Homo sapiens: one gene and its partners. The protein of the gene in region 4 purifies or fractionates together with the protein of the main gene of each other region. This does not show direct contact. Each region holds a gene or a part of one and is shown on either strand. Other genes may lie near its edges. The genes, in order: GNAQ, VSIG4, UBTD2, PCDHGC3, DLK1, ERICH5 and GNAZ.

What was found.
Region 1: the proteins of PCDHGC3 (region 4) and GNAQ purify together in Homo sapiens (affinity purification with mass spectrometry; one large-scale study listed by BioGRID and IntAct). This does not show direct contact.
Region 2: the proteins of PCDHGC3 (region 4) and VSIG4 purify together in Homo sapiens (co-immunoprecipitation; one large-scale study listed by IntAct). This does not show direct contact.
Region 3: the proteins of PCDHGC3 (region 4) and UBTD2 purify together in Homo sapiens (affinity purification with mass spectrometry; one large-scale study listed by BioGRID and IntAct). This does not show direct contact.
Region 5: the proteins of PCDHGC3 (region 4) and DLK1 purify together in Homo sapiens (co-immunoprecipitation; one large-scale study listed by IntAct). This does not show direct contact.
Region 6: the proteins of PCDHGC3 (region 4) and ERICH5 purify together in Homo sapiens (affinity purification with mass spectrometry; one large-scale study listed by BioGRID and IntAct). This does not show direct contact.
Region 7: the proteins of PCDHGC3 (region 4) and GNAZ purify together in Homo sapiens (affinity purification with mass spectrometry; 2 studies listed by BioGRID and IntAct, with this or other methods). This does not show direct contact.

What each region holds. Positions count from the first base shown.
Region 1 is NC_000009.12:77,790,464-77,794,878, reverse strand, and holds part of GNAQ (guanine nucleotide-binding protein G(q) subunit alpha), read left to right. Parts: intron 1-286; coding exon 287-416; intron 417-4,415.
Region 2 is NC_000023.11:66,026,184-66,030,598, reverse strand, and holds part of VSIG4 (V-set and immunoglobulin domain-containing protein 4 isoform 1 precursor), read left to right. Parts: intron 1-2,486; coding exon 2,487-2,549; intron 2,550-3,072; coding exon 3,073-3,150; intron 3,151-4,415. UniProt on the Homo sapiens protein: Phagocytic receptor, strong negative regulator of T-cell proliferation and IL2 production. Potent inhibitor of the alternative complement pathway convertases.
Region 3 is NC_000005.10:172,273,278-172,277,692, reverse strand, and holds part of UBTD2 (ubiquitin domain-containing protein 2), read left to right. Parts: intron 1-4,415.
Region 4 is NC_000005.10:141,499,413-141,503,827, forward strand, and holds part of PCDHGC3 (protocadherin gamma-C3 isoform 1 precursor), read left to right. Parts: intron 1-4,415. UniProt on the Homo sapiens protein: Potential calcium-dependent cell-adhesion protein. May be involved in the establishment and maintenance of specific neuronal connections in the brain.
Region 5 is NC_000014.9:100,732,837-100,737,251, forward strand, and holds part of DLK1 (protein delta homolog 1 isoform 1 preproprotein), read left to right. Parts: intron 1-1,312; coding exon 1,313-2,060; 3' UTR 2,061-4,415. UniProt on the Homo sapiens protein: May have a role in neuroendocrine differentiation.
Region 6 is NC_000008.11:98,088,026-98,091,711, forward strand, and holds part of ERICH5 (glutamate-rich protein 5), read left to right. Parts: intron 1-1,050; coding exon 1,051-2,004; intron 2,005-3,686.
Region 7 is NC_000022.11:23,098,019-23,101,518, forward strand, and holds part of GNAZ (guanine nucleotide-binding protein G(z) subunit alpha), read left to right. Parts: intron 1-593; coding exon of another isoform or gene 594-794; exon of another isoform or gene 795-3,500. UniProt on the Homo sapiens protein: Guanine nucleotide-binding proteins (G proteins) are involved as modulators or transducers in various transmembrane signaling systems.

The DNA of each region.
Region 1 (4,415 bases), on a different chromosome or scaffold from region 4:
ACCATTTTGCTTGGCACAGATAAGGATGTTTTTTACAGTGTTACAGTTTTCGTACACACTGGTAACTTTCTTAAAACCATCATGATGTGTTACCCAGAATGTTTTAACTTTGAATATTAGGTAATAAGAAATTAGTAATTATTCAATAAGTATTAATTGAATTGACTTGGATGATCATCGTCATTCAAGAGAATATTTTCCCTAAGTTTGTAAGTAGTGCTATATTTATGTTGACTTTTTAGTTTTACTTTATATGTTATTAATATGAGTATTGTTAACCTTGCAGAATGGTCGATGTAGGGGGCCAAAGGTCAGAGAGAAGAAAATGGATACACTGCTTTGAAAATGTCACCTCTATCATGTTTCTAGTAGCGCTTAGTGAATATGATCAAGTTCTCGTGGAGTCAGACAATGAGGTAAGTGTTCTTTAGACAGGCAATGGATTATCATTTTATTATCTGATACAAGTAAATGATAGAAAGTAGGGTGTGGGGAATGGAGTGAACTTACTTCTTTGCTTTCTTGAAATTTGATTTTAGGACTTTTAAAATAACCAAAAATAATCCTGTGGTAAGCTCTTCTGTCAGATGTGTGAGCAGGTCTTTGTGTTCAAATCTAATTAGAGCCTATTTGATACTTTTTAACACTATGCAGAGGTTCTGAAAATGAAAATAACATGGAAATCCTAGGCTAATCATCAGATCATTTTATAGTCTTCCTCCTACAGGATAGAACTGGGAGTGTTGGAGTGAGTCATCCTGTTTTGTTTTGTTTTCATTTTGTTTAAATCATTGTTTGTGTGATGGGTGTGTCCCAAAGAGTACTCAAAATCTCTCTTGGCAAATGTGAATGACTTCGCAGCTGGGCTCTAAATCAGTTCATTATGAACCATGGAATATCTTGGTGATGCGGCCTTTCTGCTCTTATAGAATTCTCTAGGCTGTTGCATAATTTTGTCTCTATTAAGCAGTGAGCAGTTGAAGAAGTATCCTTAATATGCCTGTCTGGAGAACAATTTCAGTATTGTTATCTCCTCCCTGTTACAGGGAAACTTAATAGGTGTAAATGTGGATTTTCAGGATGGTAAAGACCTGACGATGAATCGATTATGGAATATATTAAGGGATGTAGAAATCTGTACTTCTGAGCTGTAGTTGTGTGCATGTGTATGTGTGTGTTGGGGGAACGGGGAAGACACCATTGATATCCTGTTAGAGGCAGAGATTGCAGTGTGGTAGGTTAATAATAAATATTAAATATCCCAATAATAGGGTAGCAAAAAAGAAGGAAGTGAGAGATCCCCGTTTGCTGACTAAAATAGGATCTAGCATATTATGCTTTTAATACAGTACATTTTTTAGGTACACAAGAATTCCTGACTGGTTCTTTTAAATATTTTTCTGCCAGTATTAATATCTCCATTAAAATACATATCCAAGCTCCTATAGTATTTCTTTTATGTATAGGATTGATAAAGTTTCCGTGAACCAATGTCTATATAGAACCGAGAGTCACCTGTTCATGCATTTCGGAATCATTCCTGAGTTACAAGTATATTGGCTTTGGAGTTAACCAAATAACTTCTGTTTAAGAATGAGGCTTGTTTATCAATCAGTTGCCCCCAATAACTCTAAAGCAAAGTGCCTAAAAGCATGCTACAATATATGACAGTAAGTTACCAAGATACAAGGCAGTTACTGTCAGAATTTTAGCTATGATATCTTTATCTGTATATCTTTATGTCTGTGCTTGTTTGTTACATAATCCCTGGATGTAGTATTTTAAACATACTGCATATTTTGGGAGCAGATCTATTCTAACACTTCTGATTTTTTTGAATGTTGTGTCAAGACAAAAAAATATTTTGAGGGCTTCCCTACTATATGCTGGGTACCAGAGTATCTAAAAAGACACAAAAATGGGGAAAAAAATCAACTCTGCCCTAGAAGACCTTATAAACAAGATATGCTTTTGGTCAGAATAAGCCATAGGGGGAAAGGTAAGCCTTTGTTATGTAGGTTGTCATTTCTCTTCTTTAATTTGCCATCCAGTAAAATAAAATTTGCATTTATCAATTACACAAGAGATGTAAGAAGCAAATGTGAATTTATTTCTGATGTTTACATTATAGCTAGAGGAGGACAAGTGTTTATCAATACACATTTTCCACAAGATAAATGCATTATATATATATGAAGAAGTATATGTCATGATGTAATACTTATCAATTTACCACTTCAAAATTATCAAAATAGAAAAGAAAGTAGAATCCTTTGGCAACTCATCAGCTAATTCAGTTCAACCGAATTGAATCTGGTTCTTCAGTTATCTGAACATTACAGATCATTTATTCCATTTTTCCTCAGACATAGCTAATAGTGACTAGATTTTTATATAAAAGTATATTATGTTAATTAGAATAAAATGGCATCGTTTTTATTATCATGTGTCATAATTAAAGTTCCCACAGTAACTTGACATTCAATGTACAGGTACTAAGAACGTCTAAAAATATTGTCCCAGTTCCTTTGATTCCTGTGGTGATGTCTTATGCTACTTTTAAATAATTACAAATTAAAATAATAAAGCTATCATTTTTTCATTAGGACTCCCTAATCACTTGTGAATCTTTTGAAAGTCTAGGTAATTCTATAAGATGAAAGTCAACTTGTACGGTGTTCCTTTCTGAGACCTCTAGTCAAGCCTGATGATAGTATGGGATCATGAGAAAAGTGCTGTTCATTAATTCCTTCATCCATATTAGCCACAGCTATCACTGTCTGTAATTAGGAAGTACTGTCAAAAAAATATTTTTTAATGTTGGGATGTAGTCTCATTACCCCTTTTTTTCCCCAGTTGTACTAATGTATGATAATGTCATTGCCTCTCAGCTTCCTTAATCATTAAGAAAATTCAGAACTACAGAATTCTAGTTTCCCCAGATTTTTTGGTTTTGGTGAGACAAAACTGAAATAAACTCCAGAAACATTTTGTTCTTGGTTTAGAAGTCTGATGTTCATAACTTTAATCCAAAGCAGACTTTGTTGTGCCTCCCTCCCTTGGTATATATTTGTGAGAAAAACCTAGGAATGGATTCTGACAGCTTTTCTTTCTATCCCAGGAAACTGTGGAAAATGCATTGCAGACCACAGACAAAAGCAGCTAAGGGAAGCATTTTAGATTATTGCTTTTGCTTTTTAATATTTCTAAAACCTTATAAATCTTCATAATTTTATGTAGGTCTGCTTTTGTCTGCCTAGATTCTCAGCCTTTCTATTGTTTGGGGAATGAATTTCTTTTTTCCTTCAAAGAAGGAAATACATTATCAAATAGTGGCTAGAATACCCAGGGTGGTAGAGCTGTGTTGATTTGCGTATTCCCTTTACTGTCTTATTGATGTGTGTATTCCCTTTGCTGTCTTATTTTCCCTGTGATAACACACCAGCATGGAATCCACTATTCTGCTGTAATCCTTTCATGGGTATGTTATTTCAGTGCTCCTGAAAGCCCAAAGCACACAATAAGACATGCTTATAACATATTTTAGTTTATCAGTGTGTATCCAAACACTGCCTTTTAATCTTTATTTTTCTGATTTTCTGTTTCATGAATATCTGAGCACTACTACAAAGATGTTTTCTCAGACATTGTCTCAATGACTGTCTTCCAGGCTAAGCTCTTTATAGAATCTCAAAGACTGAGACCTTTTTCTCCTCCATGTCCTCTTTGAATGTGAGCTTTGAATTTATTAATCATCTTGAAATGGTCATGAGGAATTATGTTATCATTTTATTAAAACGTCAAGATAGTTCTCCCTACCCTAGGCCCTCCTTGATCAAGGTGGATTCCCTGACCTTGGTTTCCATAAACATGTATTCATCCTTCAAACCTGATTTTTGAAGTTGCTCAATTGATAAAAGGAAAGCATAGACGTTTATAATACCTTAGCACTTTATACCCAAAACTTGCTGAAGCTGCTACTCATCAGAATCTACCAGCTGACCTCACCGTGGCGGGGACAGATCAGGTTTGCTGGTGTGCGTCATAACGATGAGGTTACAGGAATGAAGAGATGAAGGCCTGTGGCCAAGGTCACTGAAGGCCAGGTCCCCTGCCCTTCCAGACCAGCTTTCTTTCCCTTCCCTCATAGTGTCTTCTAGATGTTAGAGACAAACTTAAAGAAAAAGCAAGAGGAGCTATAAGGCAGCAAAGAGGGTGGAAGTAGAATGAAAATCCTGCCCTTTCATGAAGGAGTTGAAATAACTCTCCTCTACCTCTAAGCTCTTCTTACACCAATTGGTAGTAGTAGACCAGCCAGAGATCCTTTACCAGTCATTTAGAGTTCCTGTATTGCTCATTTGATTTTGAACTATCTTTAAACAATTAGTCTAAAATATGCATTTCCTTTGGATCCG
Region 2 (4,415 bases), on a different chromosome or scaffold from region 4:
CTCTCTGCCTTGATATTTCCCTATCCATTTCCTCTTGGCTCAGAGTAAGGTATGCTTTGCTCCTCTCCACAACAAGCCCCTCCTCCTGAACTCTTAACATCAGCTACTCCAATGCCCTGCAATACCCTTTATCCTCTACCTAAGCCAAATAGATATGCATGTATAATATATGTATATATGTCAGTATGCAAGCCTAATACATACATATATATATGTTATTTTTCAAAAATCTTTCTCTCCATCTGCCACCTCATCTCTCCTATGTTCACTACCAACCTTCTCACGAAGGTAGCTTCCACCAGCTGAACCTCTCAATTCATTCACCACAACATAACTTTGTAATTTGGGGTCATCATTAACCTCCATATCACCAAATCCCAAGACCTCTCCATTCATACTTTTCCTCCTCAACATCTGTGTAGCAGTGGATCCTGTTGGCCATTTCTTCCACCTCAATATTCTTTTAATCACTGCTATTGATGACACCAACTTATCTTGGTTCTTCTAAGACCTTCCTGAATGATCCTTCTGAGACACCTTTGTTGGCTCTTTTTTCATTCACTCCTTAATTGTAAATGTTCTCAAAGACTCAATTCTTATTCATCTCTGCATGTATTTCTATATTATCAGGAGATTTTATTTACTTCTGTGGCTTCAAATATCACCTGTAGTCTGATGACTCTCCAACCATAATATTATCTGTATTTATTTTTTCCTGACTGCTAGATCCCAGTGTCTAGTTACCTTCTGGACAGCTTCATTTCTAATTTCAGCGTGTTCAAAACTGATCGTACCTTTTACTCACCAAACCTGTTCCTCAAACCTGTTAGAAAACATAGCAGTACCTTTGACTCCTCCTTCTCTTTTACCTCGCATCGTCAAATAATCATCAATATTACCAAGTGCTGTGAATTCACCTACTGAATCAGATACCTTATTAGGCTCTTTCTTTCTCTTCCTATACCCTCATGGTCTCATATTCTTTTTTAAAAAACAATTTCAATCATCTTCTAAATGTTCTCCCCATGTTCATACATTCTTACGAAGTCATCAACTTATTCAATATTTATTGAGTATATATTTTATGTCACTAGATTATAAAATTCAAGAGTGCAGAATTCTACCTGTCTACTTCATTGCTGTTTTTCAGAGCCCAGCAAAGTATCTGGCACAAAGAAGACACTAGACACTAGATGAATACTGTATTTGTTAATGAATGGGGAAAATATGCTATTGCCTTACCTTTGAAAATCCTACCACACTGTTGTCAGAATTATTTCCAAAAAAAATAGACTGAACAATTTTTGCTTCCTTTCTCAAAAGGAAGTAAACCTTTCTCAAAAGGTGTAACCTTCTGTTACACCCCATGGATCTTTCCAACTAAAGAACAAAGCCCAAACCCTTTTAGTCTGTTTTCAGCCTACCTATCCAGACTTATCTACTAATATGTTTCGCCACATCTAAAACGGAGCATGCTGTTTCCTCTGCTAGCAAGAGGGAGAAGCTTATGGTTTTCTCATGTCTTTTCTGAGCAGGTACATGGCCCTGTGCTTGTGTGTGGCCTCCTAGTTTCCCAGAACTGTGTCAGAACTCTTCAAAATCCCTATGGAAATCTTATTCCTCAACCATTTTTAAGGCTATTTTGGTTAGTTTTTTTTGTTTTCTCGCCTATTATCCATTGCCTCAGGCAGCTGTGTGACAAATGCTACCCCATCCCTGGGGAGAGGCTCTTAGCACTGGGTGACCAATAAAACAAGTCTTTTGAGTCAGGTCTTTCAGGGAACCACCAGACAGGCCAAATAATGGCAATTATTCAAAAATGAAGTTTGTTGGGCTCACTCCAGCACCTGGAATGGGGTTGTATGTTCAAGATTACCTCTGAGGTAGAAGGGGTAAGGGGACTAGGAGAAGTTAAAACAGCACAAAGCTTGCTGTTCTTACCAAAACTGGGATATTTTTCTTCCATAAATCCTGTCTAAGGTGCTGCAAACCTTTGGCTATTTTGCAAAATTCTAAAAAAAAAAAAAAAAAAAAAAAAAAGTTGATTACGTCAAATTTTGCATTATTTCACTGATGTTGTTAAAGGGTAAATTTCTGGAGGTTATTATGTCACCATTTTCACTGATGTCACCCATTGCCACTTTCTTTATGATACTTCCCAAGTTTCTCTCAAGAGAATTAATTACTAGGTCTCAGTTAGAAGTTAGTAAAAATAAAATATATTTTCCCATCCAAGTTGACTGACTCTCTGAACTCTAGCTACAGGTTCCTTCGAGATCTATTAATCCTGGGTTAAAAACTCTGTCCTTGATTGATGTATGAAAGATGAACAAGCAACACAGGACTTACCAGCATCATGACAGAAGTGTTGAGGCAGGTCCAAGTATGGACCTGAATGGCCTTTACTTACTTCCTATTTCCCTAGGGCATTAAACTATTCACCAAAGGGTACCAGGTCCCTTCAATCGGTTCCCTTTTCCTTGCAGACTCCTCAAAGCTACTCAAGACCAAGACTGAGGCACCTACAACCATGACATACCCCTTGAAAGGTGAGTTTTGCTAGAGTCTGAGGAAGTAGTAGAGGTTCAAAATGGTGTCATCGTAGCCAAGAAAGGAATCACAATGCCATGGAATGGCTAATAAACAGTCACTTGGTTCCTCAGAGAGAACATAGCAGTAAAGGAATGGAAACAAAAGAAAGGTAACAATGATGAATATATACTCTTTTTTTGTGAAAACTTCTGAGGCAAAAGGAAAGAGAGGGTTAGAATTACTCCCATTGGAAATACAAAAAACAAGAACACTAAATTCTATTCTGCTCCTAGTTTGACTTGCTGTGTGACTTTGGGTACATTACCTCCCCTCGATGGGAATTCTTCTCACTGCCCACACCTAACAGTAAGAAATGAAGATGCCTTATCTCATGGTACTAGTGGTTGATAACATGGTCAGGTACCCTGGAAAGTACAGCACAAATGGCCAGGGAAGGACTCCAACCTTTGCAACCATCTCCTATCTCTCAACTTTTTGAAAGAAGAGAGACATCTCTGACCCTATTCTCTATATTCATAGCAACATCTACAGTGAAGCAGTCCTGGGACTGGACCACTGACATGGATGGCTACCTTGGAGAGACCAGTGCTGGGCCAGGTAGGAATATTGTCAGGATTTCTATCTTTTCTTCTTGACTCTAAGCTTTGTGACCAAAACTTTCCCTTATGCACACTGTTCTACAGCATTGAAATCTGCAAATCATTACCTGCTATGTGCCAAGCAATGGTCAAGGGCACTGAGGATGGGTAAAGTGGGTAGGATGTAGAGAGAGAGATACAGATCCAGAGATGAGCAAAGTCAGAGTGAGGTTAAGGGGAGTGATAAATGTGCCCTTTATTTAGTTCTCTGTTGTCATAGTAATATGCTTTCCAAACATTCTGAGCAAGAATATGGATAGGGACATTATGACATCATGACCTCAACCAGGTAAGGATAATGGCTGAGTGTCATTGCTTGAGCTCTTAACCAGGGCTCTTCAAGCCGCTTGAAGCTGATTTCTGATTCCTCCAAAGCCTTGAAAATTCCCAAGTCAGGGTCTCAGAGATTCAAATCCCAAATAAATCTTTTGTGTTTCACCTGCATCTGATAGTCAGTTGGTATGCCTTCACATGACTACATTGACTGTTGAAATAATAGAACACTCTCACACCAATTGATAATTAGCTGCTCCCCTTAACCCCTGAGCCCTCCATTATTACCTGGGGCTGCCTTGTCCCATTCCTCAGAACTCTCTAGACCACCCCCATGGTCATGCAACAAAAGGTATACCAAGGAATCTCTAAGACTCCAAGTCTACAGTAGGCATCTGTTGTGACTGGTTGGAATTAAATAGTTTGATAACTATCACTCCTGGTACTCATTCTCTGCCTGTGTATAATTGAGAGAGTGGACTTCCAAATGCTCTTTGTAACTCTCCATTCCTGATTGCAGAGTTTTTTGGCTATCCCTTGGCAGCACTCAAACCTGTTTTATGTTCCACATTTGCATTGCCATCTTTGGCTTCAAGATTTCCATAGCTCCGTTCCTCTCCGAGAAGAACATCTACTGGGAGAAGAGAAGTTAGAAATTGCCTCATAGGGAGTTGGTTTGGAAAAATGAGAAAATAACCTTGGGCAAAGTTATTAGATGTTGGGTCTGCGCCCTATTTTCTCTACCAAGTTTTTTAGTACTTGACTCTCTTCAAAAGAGAATATTTCTTCGATTTGTACCAGCTTATAACTTGAGCTCTCTCAGTCCCAACAAGACACTCTGAGGACCACAAATACTGGATTCCTAGGACACGATATCTTAGAGTCTCATGAAAACAAGCCAGTTGCAGCAACAAATCCTAAGTACACTGAGGTTCCTTTCCTCACGCCTCT
Region 3 (4,415 bases), about 31 Mb from region 4:
GCTCTGTTACCCATGATGGAGTGCAATGGCGTAATCATGGCCTACTGCAGCCTCTACCTCCGGGGCTTAGCCAATCTTCCTGGTTCAGCCTCCTGAGTAACTGGGACCACAGGTGTGCACCACCACAGCCAGCTAATTTTTAAATTTTTGTAGAGACGGGGTCTTTCTGTGTTGTTGAGGCTGGTCTCAAACTCCCGGGCTTAAGTGATCCTCCCTCCTTGACCTCCCAAAATGCTGGGATTACAGACGTGAGCCACCGTGCATCACCTAAAGTTTGTAATTTTAATGATGTCCGATTTATCTATTTTTTTCTTCTGTTGCTTGTGCTTCTAGTTTCAGTTTTAAATATAAAGTAACCTTTCACTGATGTATACAGAATAGATCTATAGCCAATAATTTGCAAATCTCACAGCTAACATTTGCTTTCTCAACAAGAAGTGGAAAACTTTTATTTCCTCTGTCTGATCTGATGAAAGGTTATTAGCAGTGAAATGGTTTATAGAAGTTGACAATTCAGTTAACAGGGTAGCTAAAAAAGAAAAAAAGTTGACAAAAGTAATTCATAAATGTACTTCGTCTTCTTTTTGTTCCCTTCTTTTTTTTTTTTTTTTTTTTTTTTTTTTTTGAGACAGAGTCTGCTTTGTCACCCAGGGTGGAGTACAGTGGCATGATCTCGGCTGACTGCAATCTCCGCCTCCCAGGTTGAAGCAATTCTCCTGCCTCAGCCTCCCGAATAGCTGGGATTACACGTGTGCACCTCCACACCGGCTAATTTTTGTATGTTTAGTAGAGACGGGGTTTCACTGTGTTGGCCAGACTGGTGTCGAAATCCTGACCTCAAGTGATCCCCTGCCTCAGACTCCCAAAGTGCTGGAATTACAGTTGTGAGCCACTGTGCCTGGCCATTTTGTTTCCTTTTTTTGTCTTCTTCCTTCCCTCCCTCCCTTCTCTCCCCCTTTCCCTTTCTTCCGTCTTTCCCTCCCTCCCTTTCTTTGTCTCTGCACCCCAATAATGAACCTTACAAATGAAACCATCTGTCCTAAGGAACATAATGCAACTGGCCCACATTACGGGGTCAGAAGGCGTGGGGGACTGATCTTCACCCCAGTTGATTCTCCAGCTCAGTTTGTAAACTGATAGTACATGAGTCACATCCAGTCAACAAACATGCTTTGTTTGGCCTGTATGATGTTTTTAAAAACATACCAGATAGAAGAATGGTTATGAAGTAAAGCTTGGAAGTGGTTGTAAACAATACATGCATGGGGTAATCGTTGGTAAAGTGGCTGCTTTGGCTTGAGCAGTGTGTGTGAGAGAAAATGATGGAGAAACTGGACAGGTATTGCGTAGGATGTTAGTGTGGACTCTTGAAGAGAAGAGCTTATCTGATGAAAAGAATGTACTGACTGCTAAATATCATTCACTAAATATTAGTTGAACCACTATTATGTACTAGTTACTGGGATTACAACAGGGAAAAAAAAATCTCTGCCCTCAAAGGAATTTACAGTCTAGTATTTTGCTGCTCAGAAAGTTTTGTCTCTGGAGCAGCAATATCGGCATCACCTTGGGAGCATGTTAGAAATTCAGAGCCTTAGACCTACAGAATCTGCATTTTCACAAGATTCTCAAGTGATTTCCTATGTACATTAATGTTTGAGAAGCATTGGTATAGGATTGCCTAAAGTGGGAAGAGACTAGGATGAGGAACCCATGAGGGAAAAAAATGGAATGAGTTGGTGATTTATTGGATGTAGGGGTACAGAAGAGAAAAGGAGAAGTAAAATAATACCATGTTTATGAACCCGAGTGACCAGGAATATTGAGGTAGCTTGGCAGGTTTTGTGGAATAAGAAAGATATCTGGGAAAAGCCCTGGTTTAGCATTCAGTATATGTTAAGGTGTAGGTGACAGAAGAATGTCTAAGTGGAGTCACCATGTAGTGTGGTACGGAAATTTAGATAGGGAACTCCTAGATGCTTAGGGCTATGATTGTGGATTTTGGGATCAGCTGGGGTGAGTTGACTGAAGGTGTAAAAGTGAGTGACTGCTAATAAGTAAGTGAAAGAGGAGGAAAATACTAAGAATTGAGTCATGAGAGTTTCATAAAGGGTGAAGCAATAAGAAAATCACCTCTAATCAGGCCTGACACATAGTAAGTAGGTACTTAGTATACTGAATTTTGTTGAATTGGGAAAGAGGGAAGCAGGTCTCTGCTTGTGAAACTAATCTGGTTGTATTTAGAACGGATCATTCTTGTAATTTCAGAAAATAATTTGGTTCAGTAACTTGGTTCTAGCTGTGGTGTGATACCGTTTGGCTGTGTTCCCACCCAAATCTCATCCTGAATTGTAGTTTTCATAATCTCCACGTGTCATGGGAGATACCCAGTGGGAGGTAATTGAATCATGGGGGCGGTTACCTCCATGCTGTTCTTGTGATAGTGAGTGAGTTCTCACAAGATTTGTGGTTTTATCAGGGGCTTTCCCCGCTTTTGCTCGGCACTTCTTCCTCCTGCCATGTGAACAAGGACGTGTTTGTTGCCCCTTCCACCGTGATTGTAAGTTTCCTGAGGCCTCCCCAGCCCTGCGGAACTGTGAGTCAATTAGACTTCTTTCCTTTATAAATTACCTAGTCTCAGGCAGTTCTTTGTTTTTGAGACGGAGTCTCGCTCTGTTGCACAGGCTGGAGTGCAGTGGCGCAATCTTGGCTCACGGCAAACTCCACCTGCTGGGTTCATGCCATTCTCCTGCCTCATCCTCCCAAGTAGCTGGGACTACAGGCGCCCGCCACCATGCCTGGCTAATTTTTTGTATTTTTAGTAGAGTTGGGGTTTCACCGTGTTAGGATGGTCTCAATCTCCTGACCTCATGATCCGCCCACCTCGGCCACCCAAAGTGCTGGGATTACAGGCATGAGCCACCGCGCCTGGCCTCAGGCAGTTCTTTATAGTAGCATGAGAACGGACTAATACATAGTGTTTGCAAAAATTCTAGCTGTAGTTTGTTACTCATATCCTAAAACAAGGTAGACTTCTTAGGTATACAATTCCAGAATATACCAGTAGCCCTTTTGAGGTTGGTGTGGTTCAGGACAAACACATTCTCTGTAAGACTTTCTTCACCAAGAATGTCCAGTGTACTTCTTTCTTATGTATTTTCAGTGTCCATTATGTTCTACACATCATCTAACTGGTTTATTGAATTTTCTTATGCTTCTATTCTTTGGTTTGTGCCAATAGTAAAGAGTAAAACAGCCAGGTGCAGTGGCTCACACCTGTAATCCCAGCACTTTGGGAGGCTGAGGCGGGCGGATCATGAGGTCAGGAGATCAAGACCATCCTGGCCAACATGGTGAAAGCCTGTCTCTGCTAAAAATACAAAAATTAGCTGGGCATGGTGGCACGTGCCTGTAGTCCTAGCTACTTGGGAGGCTGAGGCAGGAGAATCGCTTGAACCCGGGAGGTGGAGGTTGCAGTGAGCCGAGATTGTGCCACTGCACTCCAAGCCTGGCGACACAGCGAGGCTCCGTCTCAAAAAAAAAAAAAAAAAAAAAAAGTAAAGCAAAATTGAGCATGAGGAGGACTGAAGATTTAGTCTCCTTGTATCCCTAGTGTGACAGTGGAGGTGAAAATCCTTCATATTTTCTGGGTCGGTGAGCTCTGGGGCTTTATGAGAGAGGTGCCTAAAATTTCATACCACTTTGGCAAGAGACTTTTAGGACATTTACATGATACAAAGCAGAAGGCAGCAAATTTTACTAGGAGGAGTGGAGTTGTAGGGAGGGGACCAAAAAGAAAATGGGCAGCAAGAAGATATAGGTTGAAAATACAGTGGTACTCTGGGTTGGCAGGTATGAGAACCTAATATATAGGTCAAGGAAGCTACAGTCGGAAAATATTAGACATGAGGAGAGCTGAATCCTCTTTGGGAAAAGTTTTAGCACTAGAGTTTACATTAAAAATTGACATAGGCCATTGTAGCTGCTTCCTGATCATCTACCTTCCGTTGGGCTAGTCCCACTCCATTTTCAATTTTCTATCAATAAAGGATTGGAATTTATGTTGGAAAGCCTTTTTTTTTTTTTTTTTTTTTTTTTTTTTGAGACGGAGTCTCACTCTGTCGCCCAGGCTGGAGCGCAGTGGTACAATCTCGGCTCACTGCAACCTCTGCCTCCCAGGTTCAAGCGATTCTCCTGCCTCAGCCTCTGAAATAGCCGGGATTACAGGCGTGTGCCACCACACCTGGCTAATTTTTGTATTTTTAGTAGAGATGAGGTTTCACCACGTTGGCCAGGCTGGTTTTGAACTCCTAACCTCAGGTGATCCACCCGCCTTGGCTTCCCAAAGTGCTGGGATTACAGGTGTGAGCCACCATGCCCAGCCAGAAGGCATTTTTAAAAAGAATCTTGCAGTG
Region 4 (4,415 bases):
ATGAAAAATAGAAAAAAAATTAAAAGGAAAACCACCCATCATTTTACAATCTAGGGAGAACCACCACCAACTACAGTTTAATATGAAACATTTCAAATATGTACAAAAGTAGAGAGAATGGTGTCATGAACCTGTATGATACCACTATCCAGCTTCAACTAATGCCTTATCTTGTTTCACCTATATCCCTACCCTTATCCTGTCCTTGGATTCTTTTGAAGCAAATCTCAGACATCATATAATTTCATCTTGGTCTCCACCATCTTTAACAGATGACTTTTTTTTTTTTTTTTTTTTTTGGAGACAGAGTCTCACTCTCTTGCCCAGGCTGTGGCACAATCTCAGCTCACTGCAGCCTTCGCCTCCCGGGTTCAAGCAATTCTCATGCTTCAGCCTCCTAAGTAGCTAGGATTACAGGTGTGCACCACCACACACAGCTAATATTTTGTATTTTCAGTACAAACAGGGTTTCGCCATGTTGGCCAGGCTGGTCTTGAACTCCTGGCCTCAAGTGATCCACCCTCCTCGGCCTCCCAAAATGTTGGGATTACAGGTGTGAGCCACCTTGCCCGGCCAGATGATTCTTTCATAAGGTCCACATTTTATATTTGAGTGAGTGTCTCTTAAGTATCTTAATGCTCTTTTAATGTAAAAGACTTCCCCTCCATCTTCCATTTTTGCAATTTATTTGTTGAATCCCTGCCTTTTCATATATATCTTTCTAAACTTTTCTTTGTGTAATCAAAGAACATGCATGAGCTTCATTTTTATTTTTATTTATTTATTTATTTATTTATTTATTTATTTATTTATTGATACGTAGCCTTGCTCTGTCACCCAGGCTGGACTGCAGTGGCGCAATCTCGGCTCACTGCAAGCTCCGCCTCCCAGGTTCACGCCATGCTCCTGCCTCAGCCTCCAGAATAGCTGGGACTACAGGCGCCCACTACCACGCCCGGCTAATTATTTTGTATTTTTAGTAGAGACGGGGTTTCACCGTGTTAGCCAGGATGGTCTCGATCTCCTGACCTCGTGATCCGCCCGCCTCGGCCTCCCAAAGTGCTGGGATTACAGGCGTGAGCCACCGCGCCTGGCCGAGCTTCATTTTAAAAAAATCTCATTCACCTAAATAAGTTGTTCACAAACTTGTCACACTTTCATGTGACACTTTATTCACATATTAAGAACTGTTATTCCCAGTCATACGGTACATTTCCTACTAGTTTTTTAAAAATAGCAACTGAGGCCATACTGTCCAACAGAATTATAGCTTTTTTCTTCTTTGCAGTGTATCATGAGAATTTCCCCATGTCTTTCAAAATTCTTCCCAAGTCATTTGCAGAGTAACTCCTCTTATGAATATACATATTATTTTACAGAATAAGTCCTCATATGAATATACATATTATTTTTCTAATGCTAATGGGCTTTTGCTACATTAGAAAACATACACATTCATTTACAATTTTTTTTTTTTGAGACAGTCTCGCTCTGTCTCCAGGCTGGGGTGCAGTGGCGCCATCTCGGCTCACTGCAAGCTCCACCTCCTGGGTTCAAGCAATTCTCCTGCCTCAGCCTCCTGAGTAGCTGGGACTACAGGCACGCGCCACCACGCCCAGCTAATTTTTGTATTTTTAGTAGAGACGGGGTTTCACCATGTTGACCAGGATGGTCTCAATCTCTTGACCTCGTGATCCGCCTGCCTCAGCCTCCCTAAGTGCTGGGATTACAGGTGGGAGCCACCATCCCCAGCCTCATTTACATTTTAACACAATTAAATTCAGGGTGTTGTCAGGGTGACTTCCTAGATTTCTCAGTTTTTTGAGCATGATGTAGGGAGTATTTTATTATAGTCCAGTCTATGGGATATTCCCTTATACACACACACACACACACACACACACACACACACACACACACACCCCAAACTCAATAGGGCAAGAACCATATTCATCATCTCTTAAATCCTAGGTCCTGTCACAGGCCACTGCTTGGAAAATAGTTGACTAAATGTAGTCCATTTCTTCCATTTTTACTTTTCACTATTCCCCAAATCCTGGAAGAGTCCCTCATATCTGCTGCTGGGGCTCCAAGGCCTCCAAGCTGAAGCCCAGTACGTTGTTGTGCATAAGATCATAGGCCCTGGAATCATATTAGGCTGGCTTTCAGGTTGCAACTCTACCAGTTCCAGCTGTGTGACTCTGGTATAGTCTCTCAACCTCTCTGAGCCCTGTTTTCATCTGTTGGAAAATATAGATAATCACAACACTTATCTGCAGGGTGATTCCGAGGATAAAAAAGACAAATATATTACCCAGTCAGCTTAGAATAGGAAGCTCTCAGTAAATGGTTAAAAAAGAGGTCTCTCTCCCTCTGCTCATCTCTTACCCAGCTTCACATAATTGGCAGCCCACCCACCTGTTTGGCCCTCAACCTTCAACCATTTCCCAGGACGCCTCCTTACACTCCTGATCATCATGGTTCCAACCCCACTGTTCCACTCAGCTTTGTTCCCTCAACACCACTGCTCCCTGTGACAGGTCATCCTCCTAACCTCTGGCATCTGGTCCCGTTGTCTCCCTGACAACCCGCATGCTCTCCTCCCTGCAACCCCCGCCGCTTGCCTGCTCTCCCTACTTTATTCCCATTAGCCCCCTTCACCTGGGGCTGAGAACACCTGGCCTTGACCCTGCACCCTCAGCCAGGCCCACAGAGCTCAGTCGGGCCGGAAGTAAGGACCCCAGATATTCAGTTGAGGAATTTAACATTAATACAATAATATAGAATCCACCAGCAGATTTTCATAAATGTTCTGTGTGTTCTTTTATCCTTTTTTTTAATCCAGGATTTTATCAAGGAGCATAGATTGCATTTGGTTGTCACGTCTTTCCTCTCCTTTAATCTGGAGCCAGCTCCCAGTCTTTTTATTTTTTTAATGACATGGATATTTTTAAAGAGTCCAGGCCAGTTGTACTTTAAAATGTCCCCGAACCTGGATTTGCTGGCTATTCTCTGATGGTTAGATTCAGATTACACACCTTGGTAGGAATACTTCCCGCAGCATCACACTGGGACTCATCTAACGTCGGCCTGTCCCACTATCAGTGATGCCGAGTTTGTTCGTGTGGTAAAAACAGTGTCCCAGATCTCTCCATTATAAAAATATATTTTTATAAAGATATTTTAAAATATTTGTGAAAATATAAGTAATCTGTGGATGATACTTTGAGATAGGCAGCAACCCTTCATGCAATTTTAGTATTCCCTGATGATCCTTGCCTGTATCTGTTTTTACATCAGTGATTACAAAGCGGTGATGTTCTGTCATTCCTTCTACATGTATTTGCTGGTATTCTTCTGAAAATTACCTGGATGATTTCTTCAGATTTAAATTCACTGTCTTTTCCTTGGGGAAGCCTGGACTGGCTGAGCTGCCTAACCCTGACTCTCTGTCTTTTTTTTTTTTTTGACAGGGAGTCTAGCTCTGTTGCCAGGCTGGAGTGCAGTGGCAACCTTCACCTCCTGGGTTCAAGCGATTCTCCTGCCTCAGCCTCCCAAGTAGCTGGGATTACAGGCGTGTGCCACCATGCCCGGTTAATTTTTTTTTTTTAATATCTATTTTAGTTGAGACAGGGTTTCACCATGTTGGTCAGAATGGTCTCGATCTCCTGACCTCGTGGTCTGCCCGCCCCTGCCTCTCTTCATACCCTCTGGTAGCCCCTGACACAGCCCATGGCAAGTATCACAATTGCAATTACTCTATTGTGTAATTATTTAAAATCAGCCTCTCAGTGCCCACCATGAGCACCGTAAAGATGGACAGTTTCTATCATACTCACAGCCACAACCCCAGCACCTGGCTCTGTGTCTGGTACATAGAAATTGCTCAAGAAAGAATTGTTGGAGGGGCGCGGTGGCTCACGCCTGTAATTCCAGCACTTTGGGAAGCGGAGGCAGGTGGATCATGAGGTCAGGAGTTCGAAACCAACCTGGCCAATATGGTGAAACCCCATCTCTACTAAAAATACAAAAATTCGCTGGGCATGGTGGCATGTGTGCACTTGTCGTCCCAGCTGCTCAAGAGGCTGAGGCAGGAGAATCACTTGAACCTGGGAGGCAGAGGTTGCAGTGAGCCGAGATCGCGCCACTGTACTCCAGCCTGGGTGACAGAGCGAGACTCCAGCTCAAAAAAAAAAAAAAAAGAAAAAAGAAAAGAAATAATTATTGAATCAATGGAAACAGAATTACAACTCTTCCCACTTTTGGGAAGGAGAATTGAGATTCCTGCTTTCCCCTTCAACCCTAGCTTTATGTTTGTTGTGATGGTATAGAGGTCACACATGGCAGCCTTGTGTCTGTTCTTAGGCTGAGTTCATCTACTTAGGGACGGGGAATCCCAGATTGGGCAAAACCAA
Region 5 (4,415 bases), on a different chromosome or scaffold from region 4:
TCCCTCCCCGCTGGATGGGGCTTAGCCTGAAGCCAAGGGAGATCTTGACAGAGGCAGGGTCCGAATGTAAGAATCCAAACTTGAACCCAGTCCTGGGCCTGTAGTTGGGGGGCAGGGGTGTCCCTTTCCTCTGAAGAAACAGAAGCTAACATGCAAATAAGCTTATCTTGACCGGACATCGCAGGGTGGCACAGAGACCCCAGTAGTCTGTAAGAGCTGTAAACAGACATTAACGGGGCTTCCAAAGATCAGTCTTCAGACGGGGTCAGAGTGGGGGCTGGTGAAGACTGAACTCCATTTCTGCTTATTAGCAGGAAGGAGAAAAACAGAGCGAGACCTTTAAAATATTTTGCTTTTCTCGCGAATGGACTTAAACCAGTGTGTCAAAATAGAGCCTAAGGCCCTTGAAATTCCTTCAGAGCCCAGCTCCCATGCAGCCCACACCCTGAAGCAGCAGTGCTGATTTCTTGTGTTTACTGCCCCTTCTTCCCCGGAGTTTTGCCATTTATCGGATGACAAAGGGCTCGCTCGTTTAAAAGCACTTACATTAAATGCTCCTTGTACTCCACTTTGAGCAAACAGCTTTGGTTTGCAAGCTGCACTTGGGTGAATGGACCACTATTAAACAGCCTGGTACAGACGCTGGCTTGTGCCACCGTAGACAGACCTCGTATTGCTTTCTCTTTGAGAGTCCCCAAGCGCTTCCTGCACAATAGCCTGTGGATCCACACCGCTAATAATAATAATAATAATAATGAGGGTTGGCGGCAACAGTGGACATAGGCATGAAGGACGACAGCGGGTCCCGGGATAGAGTGAGGGGCGCCCCTTGCTTGGTTCTTCTGCCCCAGCAGTCCAGGGATGGAGCTAAGGGAAGGGGGCTTGCTCCAGTCCTGGGCTGTCACTGACTTTTCCTCTCCTAGCCTCAGTTTCCCCAGTTGGCTAGTGACTAACCGGTTGGAGACTAACCTCTGGTTGGAGAGGTGCAGTAAGAGGTGGGAGAGGACGTGGGCATCCTGGCATGGGAGGTCGGGTGTGTCCCAGGTTAGCATCGAGATGGGGGTGAGGTGGGCACCCACCCACCCACCCCCAGAGCTACTGGTGAGCTTCTCGCAGACAGGGGTCACGGCCCCGGGCACCTCTCTGTGCCTCCCTGGCTGGCGTTCCCTCCCTCGCTCCCTCATTCACCTGATGTGTTTTAAGCACCTGCCCCTTAGTCAGGCCAGGGACCTTCTGCCCTGAGCCCCGTGCCCTGCAGCGCTGTTGTAGCCTAGCCCCTGAGGCCGTTTACTATGTCCCTGTTGTGTTGCAGCTCCCCCTGCCAGCACGGAGGCACCTGCGTGGATGATGAGGGCCGGGCCTCCCATGCCTCCTGCCTGTGCCCCCCTGGCTTCTCAGGCAATTTCTGCGAGATCGTGGCCAACAGCTGCACCCCCAACCCATGCGAGAACGACGGCGTCTGCACTGACATTGGGGGCGACTTCCGCTGCCGGTGCCCAGCCGGCTTCATCGACAAGACCTGCAGCCGCCCGGTGACCAACTGCGCCAGCAGCCCGTGCCAGAACGGGGGCACCTGCCTGCAGCACACCCAGGTGAGCTACGAGTGTCTGTGCAAGCCCGAGTTCACAGGTCTCACCTGTGTCAAGAAGCGCGCGCTGAGCCCCCAGCAGGTCACCCGTCTGCCCAGCGGCTATGGGCTGGCCTACCGCCTGACCCCTGGGGTGCACGAGCTGCCGGTGCAGCAGCCGGAGCACCGCATCCTGAAGGTGTCCATGAAAGAGCTCAACAAGAAAACCCCTCTCCTCACCGAGGGCCAGGCCATCTGCTTCACCATCCTGGGCGTGCTCACCAGCCTGGTGGTGCTGGGCACTGTGGGTATCGTCTTCCTCAACAAGTGCGAGACCTGGGTGTCCAACCTGCGCTACAACCACATGCTGCGGAAGAAGAAGAACCTGCTGCTTCAGTACAACAGCGGGGAGGACCTGGCCGTCAACATCATCTTCCCCGAGAAGATCGACATGACCACCTTCAGCAAGGAGGCCGGCGACGAGGAGATCTAAGCAGCGTTCCCACAGCCCCCTCTAGATTCTTGGAGTTCCGCAGAGCTTACTATACGCGGTCTGTCCTAATCTTTGTGGTGTTCGCTATCTCTTGTGTCAAATCTGGTGAACGCTACGCTTACATATATTGTCTTTGTGCTGCTGTGTGACAAACGCAATGCAAAAACAATCCTCTTTCTCTCTCTTAATGCATGATACAGAATAATAATAAGAATTTCATCTTTAAATGAGTAAGAGAAATAAGTATGTTATTCTAAAATCTAAACTCAAATGAAATTTCAAAAAAGACCAAAAAAAAACAAGGCAACAGAACCAGGGCTCAGTGCCGACGCCCCTACCCTGGGGGTCTCGGCCACATGGTCCTCGTGAAACCGTTACGAGTGCTGTACATGACCACCCACTGTGCAAAGAGCTACGATTGCTTTCGTTCGTTAATTCTCACACACCACATCCGACTCGCACTCACATCCAGCTCAACATCGCTACCTTTAGATCTTTCCGATTGATTTGAGATTTAGCGGAGTGCAGCGGCTGTGTGTCAGTCAGAGAGAGCCCCAGGTTGGCTGCTGGGGGGCCGGGCCTCTGTGCCAGCCCTGCCACTAACTCGCTGTGTGATCCTTGGCGAGTCCCTATCCCAATCCTGGGCCCACTTTCTCGCCCCTCTCGAGGGAGGGGTTTGAACACCGACCACCATGGTCCTCTCTGGCTCTAAAACTCTGAATTAGGAACGAGGGGGTATGAACCAAAACACTTCCTGACCCCAACAATTGGGATCTGATGAAGACGAATTCTCATCCTGGGATCCGAAAGGTTTTGGCCTATCCTGGATGAACGCTTGATGTTGAAATTTATCCTAACTGTGTTTCTCAAAGTGGGGAGCCTCCTGGCCCACTTCCCTTTTGGGAAAAAATAGCCCCTTTGAGTCATAATGTGCCATCTGGAGTTGCCACTTAGGCAGCCAGCCCTCCCCCACCCCTCTTTGCCCACCCAGAACCCCAACACTATACCTGCCTCTACCCTATAGAGACATCCCTTGAGACTTGAATGTACTTTGAGCCGCAAGTGCCCCTGGCAGAATCTGAGCAGCAACACAGCCCTCACCAAGGTTTTCACAGGGATTAGTGGAAATTGTCACTTGTGGGGCGCTTACTAGTTTTGTGGCAAATGTGGTCCAAGACCTGGCCCACACAGCCATGGGTTTACATTTGTGTTGCTGAGTTAATAATCCTCAGATCTCAAAAGACCTAGCCAGCTTCTGAATTTTGAATTTGACTTTTTTTTTTTTTTTAACAAAGAGCATCTATCTTTTTTGCAAAAATAGAAAGAAATGGGACAGAGCTCTGTTTAGCTTTTCAGCTTTTGGGGTTGGACAGCTAAACAGCCCTTGGGTACCAGATAGGAATATTTTGCTTCTTAGATTATTTGGATAAGAATCTATACTCTTAGCTTTATTGAGCATTGCCTGCCGTGTTTACCTTGCTCCAGGTGTTTATTTCTAAGTCATCATCACCTTCGTCATCTACAGTCAGTCACATCAGTCACCCACACACAACTCACAGTCACCCATCCATTGGTCACCTGCGCCATCGTCATGACACAATATCGACCTCATCACCTCATCGTCCTCCAGCCACTACCCAAGCCCCCTCATCCTGACTCAAAGCCCGACCAGCATCTGCCCAAACTCCCAACACCCCACTCTCCCCACCAAGCCATTGGTCTCCTCACTCCCGGTCCTTTGTCATCCTGATTCCAAGCCCCGCCCCACCCTCACCGCCTCCTCCGCATCATCTGCACTCTGCAGAGCCCCTCCTACCCGCCTCTGTCCCCACCAGGCCCCTCCCTACCGTCAGCCCTGAGTCCCACAGCACGCGTCCCCAGCCCCTCCCAGCCTCACCCCAAAAACCCTGTCACCCCACCGACCACCATCATCACTGGCAAGCCCCTTCCCCTTCTCCAGCTCCCGTCCCCACTACCCCTCCCGTCCCCCAATCCTTCCCCTCCTGTTAGCCCACCCCTCCTTTCCTATCACCCCCACCTTTCCCTTCCCATTCTCCCCACCCTTCCCCTCCGATCCCACCACCCTTCCCTTCCGATCCCCGTCATCCTTCCCCTCTGATCCCCCACCCTTCCCCTCCTGTCCTCCCCAGCCCTCCCTTCCTATCACCCTCACCCTTCCCCTCCCGTTCTCCCCACCCTTCCCCTCCTGTCTCCACCAGCCCTCCCTTCCTATCACCCCCACCCTTCTCCTCCCTTCCCTCACCCCAAACCCCTGGGTCCTCCACCCCAATCTCTGACAACCGCCCCAAGTCCCTCTTCCTTCCCCACGAAGTCATTCATAAGTCACCATCTCAT
Region 6 (3,686 bases), on a different chromosome or scaffold from region 4:
AGCCTGGGCAACATAGTGAGATCCTGTCTCTAAATAGAAAAGTAAAACAAAAATAAAAAAATGGAAGAATATTGGGATTATATATATATATATTCTCTCCCAAAGCATCTTCATAAGGTTTATGCTTTTAGATTAAATTTTCAAGAAGTAAAACAACAACAACAAAAATTTCCAGAAGCAGAACTGCTGGGTCAAAGAGTATTAACATATTGCCAATCTTAAACATATTGCTTATCTTAAACTATCCAACTCACTTTTGCATCTTTTAAACTATCACGCCTCATGCAACTCTGAGATCAATATGAAGGAGAGAAGAGAGATTCACTGCTGTTTTAGAGACAAGATCATTGGGAGCTAAGTTTCCAAGCTCATACAGTTGGAACAATGGCCAGAAGTAAAATGCATGTTTCTCTGCTTTCTGTTGATTTCTTTTCCCACTGTGCCCCCCAAATGACATGAAACTCAGGCTGAACTGTCTCTGCTACTTCCCTTCCCAGACATCTTAGCCTTTACCTATTAGGGCTTCTCTGCCACAGTCCTTTTTCCATTTGCTGGGGGCTTTCCTGTGTTAGAAGGAAAGTAAGACCTCTCTAGCAGCCCAAGGACCTCGCATCATGAAACCTTCTAAGTTTGGGAATCTTCTATTGCCCTCCCCGCCAAAACAAAAATGGAAAAAAAATTTTTTAAAAAGGAAACCTTCTAAGTCTCAAGAGGAGAAAGTGTGAGACAAGGAAAAGAAGAGAGAAACAGAGTAAGCTCAGTTAGAATCTGGGACAGGAGCCATGAAAAGATGCACAAGGAGCAAACAGGAGAAAACTGTGGTTTTGGAGGACTTCAGCGCTTAAGATTAAATGTTTGAGCTGAAGACAATAAAGGGATTTGACTGGGAGAGTGTTAGGGTCATGGTATGGCCTTTCTGTACTCAGATATATTTGGAACTGTCTTGAACTGTTAAATCTACTTTGTGATGTCAATTCACTTTTCAAGATAAAACTAAACAATAATTTGTGTTTTCTCTTTTCTTTTTCTTTTTCAAATGAATAACCAAAGTAACTTCAAATGAGCATTTTTCAACTGCAGAAGAAAGTGAGTCCTGCTTTGCCCAACCAAAGCCACATGCACTGGGAAGAGAATCTACTGTTGATGGCAATGTACAAAGGGAAAGCCGTCCTCCCTTACAAAAGCTCAAGGTTTCAGCAGAGCCTACAGCTAATGGTGTTAAACCCCTCCAAGAACAGCCCCTGGCCAAGGACGTAGCCCCTGGAAGGGATGCCACAGACCAATCAGGGTCCACAGAAAAGACTCAGCCTGGAGAGGGACTGGAGGAATCTGGGCCGCCTCAACCAGGTGGCAAAGAGGATGCCCCAGCAGCAGAAGGAAAGAAGAAAGATGCAGGAGCAGGGACAGAGGCCGAGTCTCTAAAAGGAAATGCTGAAGCTCAGCCTTTAGGACCAGAAGCCAAGGGTCAGCCTTTGCAGGCAGCAGTAGAGAAGGACTCTCTCAGAGCAGTGGAGGTCACTGAGAATCCACAAACTGCTGCAGAGATGAAGCCTCTAGGAACAACTGAGAACGTTCTGACTCTGCAAATAGCTGGAGAGCTACAACCTCAGGGCACAGTGGGAAAGGATGAGCAGGCCCCGCTTCTAGAAACAATTTCCAAAGAGAATGAATCTCCAGAAATATTGGAAGGAAGTCAGTTTGTGGAAACAGCTGAAGAGCAGCAACTTCAGGCAACATTGGGAAAAGAGGAGCAGCCCCAGCTTCTAGAAAGAATTCCCAAAGAGAATGTAACACCAGAAGTATTGGACAGAAGTCAGCTTGTGGAAAAGCCTGTTATGAATGATCCATTCCATAAAACTCCTGAAGGTCCAGGAAACATGGAGCAGATTCAACCTGAAGGAATAGTTGGAAGCATGGAGCATCCAGCACGAAATGTAGAGGCAGGAGCATATGTGGAAATGATCAGGAACATCCATACTAATGAAGAGGACCAACGCATTGAAGGTAAAAGTTATGCTGGCAAACCTGGATGTTTAGATGTGCTCCATAGGAGACCAGCTCTGGGGAGTGGGATGGGGTGACTGACACACAGTCCCTGAAGTCACTTTCAGGTGGTTGAAGTTCGTTTGACCAAACCAAAAAGGCTTCTGTGCCTGGGAAAGAGGCATTCTATTAATGCTCAGTTTGTCAGCAAAACTTTTCCGAAACATCATCTCTGTCCAAAATTTTAACCTAGTGTTTAAATAGTGTCTAACATTGAAGGCAACATGTGAAACTTTCTGAATTTTTCCAAGTTGACACTTCATCAGGCCCCATGTATGAAATCAGGATCCAAAGTAAAGGTGAATAGATGATTACTGGAGGAATTCACCTTCCAATGAAATGATATATACATAATGGATCTTAGAATGTTATTTTCATCTTTGTGAAGCTTATCTTAGAAAATGACTGTCAGGACAGGGTGCAGTGGCTCACACCTGTAATCCCAGCACTTCAGGAGGCAGAGGTGGGAGGATAGCTTGAGCCCAGCAGTTCATGACCTGCCTGGGCAACATAGTGAGACCTTGTTCTCCAGAAAAAAAAAAAAAAAGAAAGAAAAAAGGAAAAAGAAAATGACTGTCAGTCTGCTCTTGTTCTTCTGCAGTTTTAAAATCTGTATGAGAAGACCAGAGAAAATGTACTATGTCTTAGCATATGGTGTTTTAAAATTTTAACTGTATTTTACCAGCATAAAACAAATGATGTTTACAGTGTTCTTTATTGGTGTTATAATTTAAAAAAATATTTTCTTCTGGGGTATGATTTACATTTTGGTAAATTTTAGCTTCACAGTTCAGTATACTTAAGTGAAGCATTCATTATAATCATCCATCTGTTTTTGTTTAATTCTTTCATTTATTTATTTTATTTAATTAATTTATTTATTTTTTGAGATGGAGTCTTGCTCTGTTGCCCAGGCTGGAGTGCAGTGAAGTGATCTCGGCTCACTGCAACCTCCACCTTCTGCGTTCAAGCGATTCTCCCGCCTCAGCCTCCTGAGTAGCTGGGACTACAGGCGCACACCACCATGCCCGGCTAGTTTTTGTATTTTTAGTAGAGACGGGGTTTCACCACATTGGCCAGGCTGGTCTCCAGCTCCTGACCTCATGATCCACCCGCCTCGGCCTCCCAAAGTGCCGGGATTACAGGCATGAGCCACCATGTCTGGCCAATTCTTTCATTTATTAACTCAGCATTTTTTGGCATGCCTAAACATATGCTAGGTGCTGAGATGCAGACTGAGGAAGAGATAGTCTCTGTCCTCAAGGGGCTCACTGTCTAGTGTGGGAAGGCAGGATGTGCGTGCATCACCATAGTCTGTTGTGGGAACTGCTTTCCTAAGAATGTGTAAGAAGGGCCCTGGGAACAACTTGGGAGAGGCAAATAAAAGCAGGTAGTTTTTACATCAGGATTGGCAAACTCAAAAGTCTTTAGGCCTAGGATACTGAAAATGAGTGAGGTGAAGGACACATGTCATACTGTGGGAGCCCAGGGGACCTTGGCAAACAGGAGAGCACAGCCTTGTCAAAAGAGGAAGCTCCGCACAGCTCCAGCCATGGAACTAGGGCCAATGTTGCCAAAGCCAACTTCTCAGGGAAACAGGGTTTCCTGCAAGTGTGTGCAATGTCCAGACTTGTTAGTGTTGG
Region 7 (3,500 bases), on a different chromosome or scaffold from region 4:
GGCTTTGGCTGTCATGTTTGCTTTCTGAACTTGTCAGTGAGGAGATGACCCAGGTGTCTTCACAGATGGGCCCAAGGCTAGGCCTTTGCCTGCCTGCAGCCCTCTTGGCTCTTACTGGCCTGTGCCTGCCACCTTGCTGCCTCTCTCTCCTCTCCTTCTGCTCTAGCCGTGGTCAGCTTGTTTTGCTCCAGCAGTACTGCTCTGTCCAGCCTTAAGCTTGTAATGATCCTGATCCCTGCCTCTCGTACCCCTGCCCTTATCCTCCAGGTCTCATCCCAAGTGGCGCCTCCTGGGAGGCCTTTTCTGACCTAGCCCGGCACCTGCTTACTCCTCCATCTAGTGATGTGTGAGTGAGCTCCTCGGGGCAGGCCCTAGATGGGCTGGGTGGCCCCTGTGGGGCCTCACATCTCTAGCTTTCCCTCTCCCAGGCCTGTCCCTGGGGAGAGCCATGGTGGGCAGCCATGGGCAGGGACAGCAGCCACTGGCCTGGTCTCAGGGATCCCTGTGAGGTTCCAGGCATTCAAGGCACTTTCTAAAGGGAGGGGCTGGCAGCCAGGCTGGCACACCCACCACCATCACCCTGGTTTCTGCAGGCCTGGGGAAGTGGTTGTTCACCAGAAAAGGAAATTCTTGATGAGAAACCCAAGCGAGGCTGGAAATTCACTGGATTCCAAATGATTCTGACCTTTCATGCTCTACCAGTAATATCTGGAGATGGAAAACAAACAGGCTGCAGAGGAAAGACAATCCCCTCCCGCGATTCCTCCCGCAGGCTGGGCTGGCCCCGGAGGTGAGCTGGCCCCCAGAGTGGTGCCGGCAGTGAGGACAGCCCGTCTCCAGCCGGGCCAGGGCCAGAGCCAGTGCTGGCACGGGCTGGCACAGGGCTGCCACTCTGCTCTCTCCTTTTGGAACGTGCTGAACTGTCCTCCCTGGGCCCTGTCAAAGGCAAGGCAGCCAAGAACAGGCCATGCTCGTTTTCACAAAAGCCGAATGAACCTTGGGGCCCAGTGCCAGGGCTCTGGACACGGCTCCTCCATAGCCCTCCTTCCGTGCTCAGCTTCCAAGGCCTCATCTTCCCTGATGCTGGCAGTGCCTCCCCACCCCCACGCCTGGCGAAGGAGCCACAGCCCCCCGGCCCACCCGCTGGCTTCTGCGTCAGCACGTTGCCAAGGAGAACGTCAGTGTCTCTGGGCTCCCGGGTGTGAGGGCTGCAGTGAGTGCAGGGCAGCACCTCAGAGCAGGGAAGGCAGATTTCCGGGTGTCTGTGGAGCATGGCAGCGAGCCACATGGGGAGCCACGCCCCTCCATGGCCACGGTTCCCACCCTCGTCCGAAGGAATTGGCAGTCCCTTGCCCTGACTAGGGCCAAGTCCTGCAGGTGTGTCAGGCACCCCAGTGCCCCCAAGCCCAACACCCAGCTGGGGCTTCCTCAGGCAGCACAGGAGGCCTGAACACAGCCCAGCAACACAAGGGGGTTTTTCTGGCGCACCTGTCCCCTGAATGATCCTGTGGGGCAGCAGCGCCTGTTATTTTTGTCACAGATCGAGGCACTGAGGCTCAGGCACACAGCTGGCGCTGGCGGGCCCCCAGCCCTCAAGTCCACAAGGACAGCTCCTGAGAGGCCATGTGTCACAGGACCCACCACGGGCCTCCCACTTAGCCAGAGCCATGGCAGAGGCTCTGCCCCTCGTCTTTAGTACATTCACACAAGGGTCAGTCAGCAAAGACAGTCACTCTGCTGCCCTAGGAGGGAAAGGCAAAGTGGAGAAGCTGGCACCTACCAGCCCACACTGAGGGACAGACACAGGTGGCTGTGACCAGCAGAGCCTGGGTCTTCACTCGGCCCCACTGGAGGCACCTGAGGGGGTAGGTGGGCACTTGTTGCCCAACCTCTGCCCTTGCGGATCAGCTAATGGACTCTGCTGGCCACCAAATGGTGTGGGATCCTTCAGAAGGCAAGATTAAAAGGTCTAGTTGTAAAGCATCAAATGTTCTCATGTGGAAACCCACAGGGAGCTCACTGCCCATTTCCCGACGGAGCTGTCAGCATTCCCAGCCCTGTGGCGGGTCTGTTTTGCACCTGTGATGGACCTGCTGTGCAGGCTCAAGGCTCAGGCTGGGGCCAAGTATGAGGGTGAGCACAACTCTCCCAGCAGCACAGGGAACTGGGGGACAAGGAGGAGGCAGTCACACCAGCCCAGCTACAGCTTCATTTCCACAAAGCCTCTGCTACCAGGGATACCTGCCCTGTCTTTCTAGAGCTGGCAGGCAGCAGTTCCCAGCAGTGTCCCCATTGTGCTTTCATCTAGGACCCACAGTAGTCACTTGGGCCCCACAGGCAGGCTGGGTCACAGCAGGGTTCACCGTGGGAGGCCTGGTGTCTCTGCCACTTATCTGAGAGACAGCTGGTCAACATGTTATCAGTGAGGGTATCCAGGGGACGGGGGACATAAGAACATGCCTTTTGTGGGGCAAGTTCTGCAGGTGGCAAGTGCTTGAGCAGCCAGCCTCCAGGCAGGTGGTCTATGCCTGGCCCTGGATAGTGGTCCCTTGTCCTGGGGCCATTGGCTTCCTGAGGAACCCCTCCCCACTCCAGGGCAGGTCAGCAGCCTCAGCACACCACGAGGGCAGGTCCACACCCACCCGGCACAGCCTGTGCTCTGAGCAGAGGGCCTGGCACACAGTGGGTGCTCTGCAGACTTTGTGGAGCGGGCGGGAGGCGGTAGGCTTGGGAAGAGCTGGAGCTCCAGAGCCCTGGCTTCTGGGTGCAGAGCAGCTGGGACACTCAGCCCTTCCCAAGGAGACCCTATGGGTGCTCGTCCATAACAGGAGTGTATGCAGTACCCTGAGGAGGGGCTGCCCAAGGCCGTCCTGTGAACACAGCGTGTTCCTGCCACCCTAGCGCTGTGGTTTATCATTTAGCCCAAAAAGGGTGCTTGTTTTAGTGCTTTTAAAATGGAGTTTAAACATTTGTGCCATAAAATGGCGTGTTGTGGGTGAAACAAGGTGTTTCCAGTAAGACAGGCTTATACCTATTGATGACAGAGCTGGTTATATTTGCCCAAGGAGGGAATTACAAATGGGCAATAGCCAGACACAGATGATACCCTCTCCCCAGCATACCAGGGCTTAGATTGAGAAGGGACCTTATATATCCTTTAGTGTTCCTAACCAGCCGGCTTTGCAGATGAGGAAACTGAGCCTCAGAGAGGTTCCTTCACATACCGCAGGGCTGAGACTCTGGCTCTCAGGGAGGGTCCTGGCACTGGCCCCTGGGAATTCCAGTGGCCCCCCTCTTCACCATACTGGTCCCACATCCTGTGGGTGCTGGGGTTCTCCAGCAAGGGCCTTGGGGGTATAGACTGGGTTCCACCCTTGGAGCTGCTGTGTAGCCAGCCTTCCCTCAGGAGAGTGGAGGACAGTGACACCTGGGCTTGGGAGAGGTGAGTGGCTGTGAAGGTTGACACTCCCCTCGTCCCCTTGTCTCCTGGCCTAGTCAGT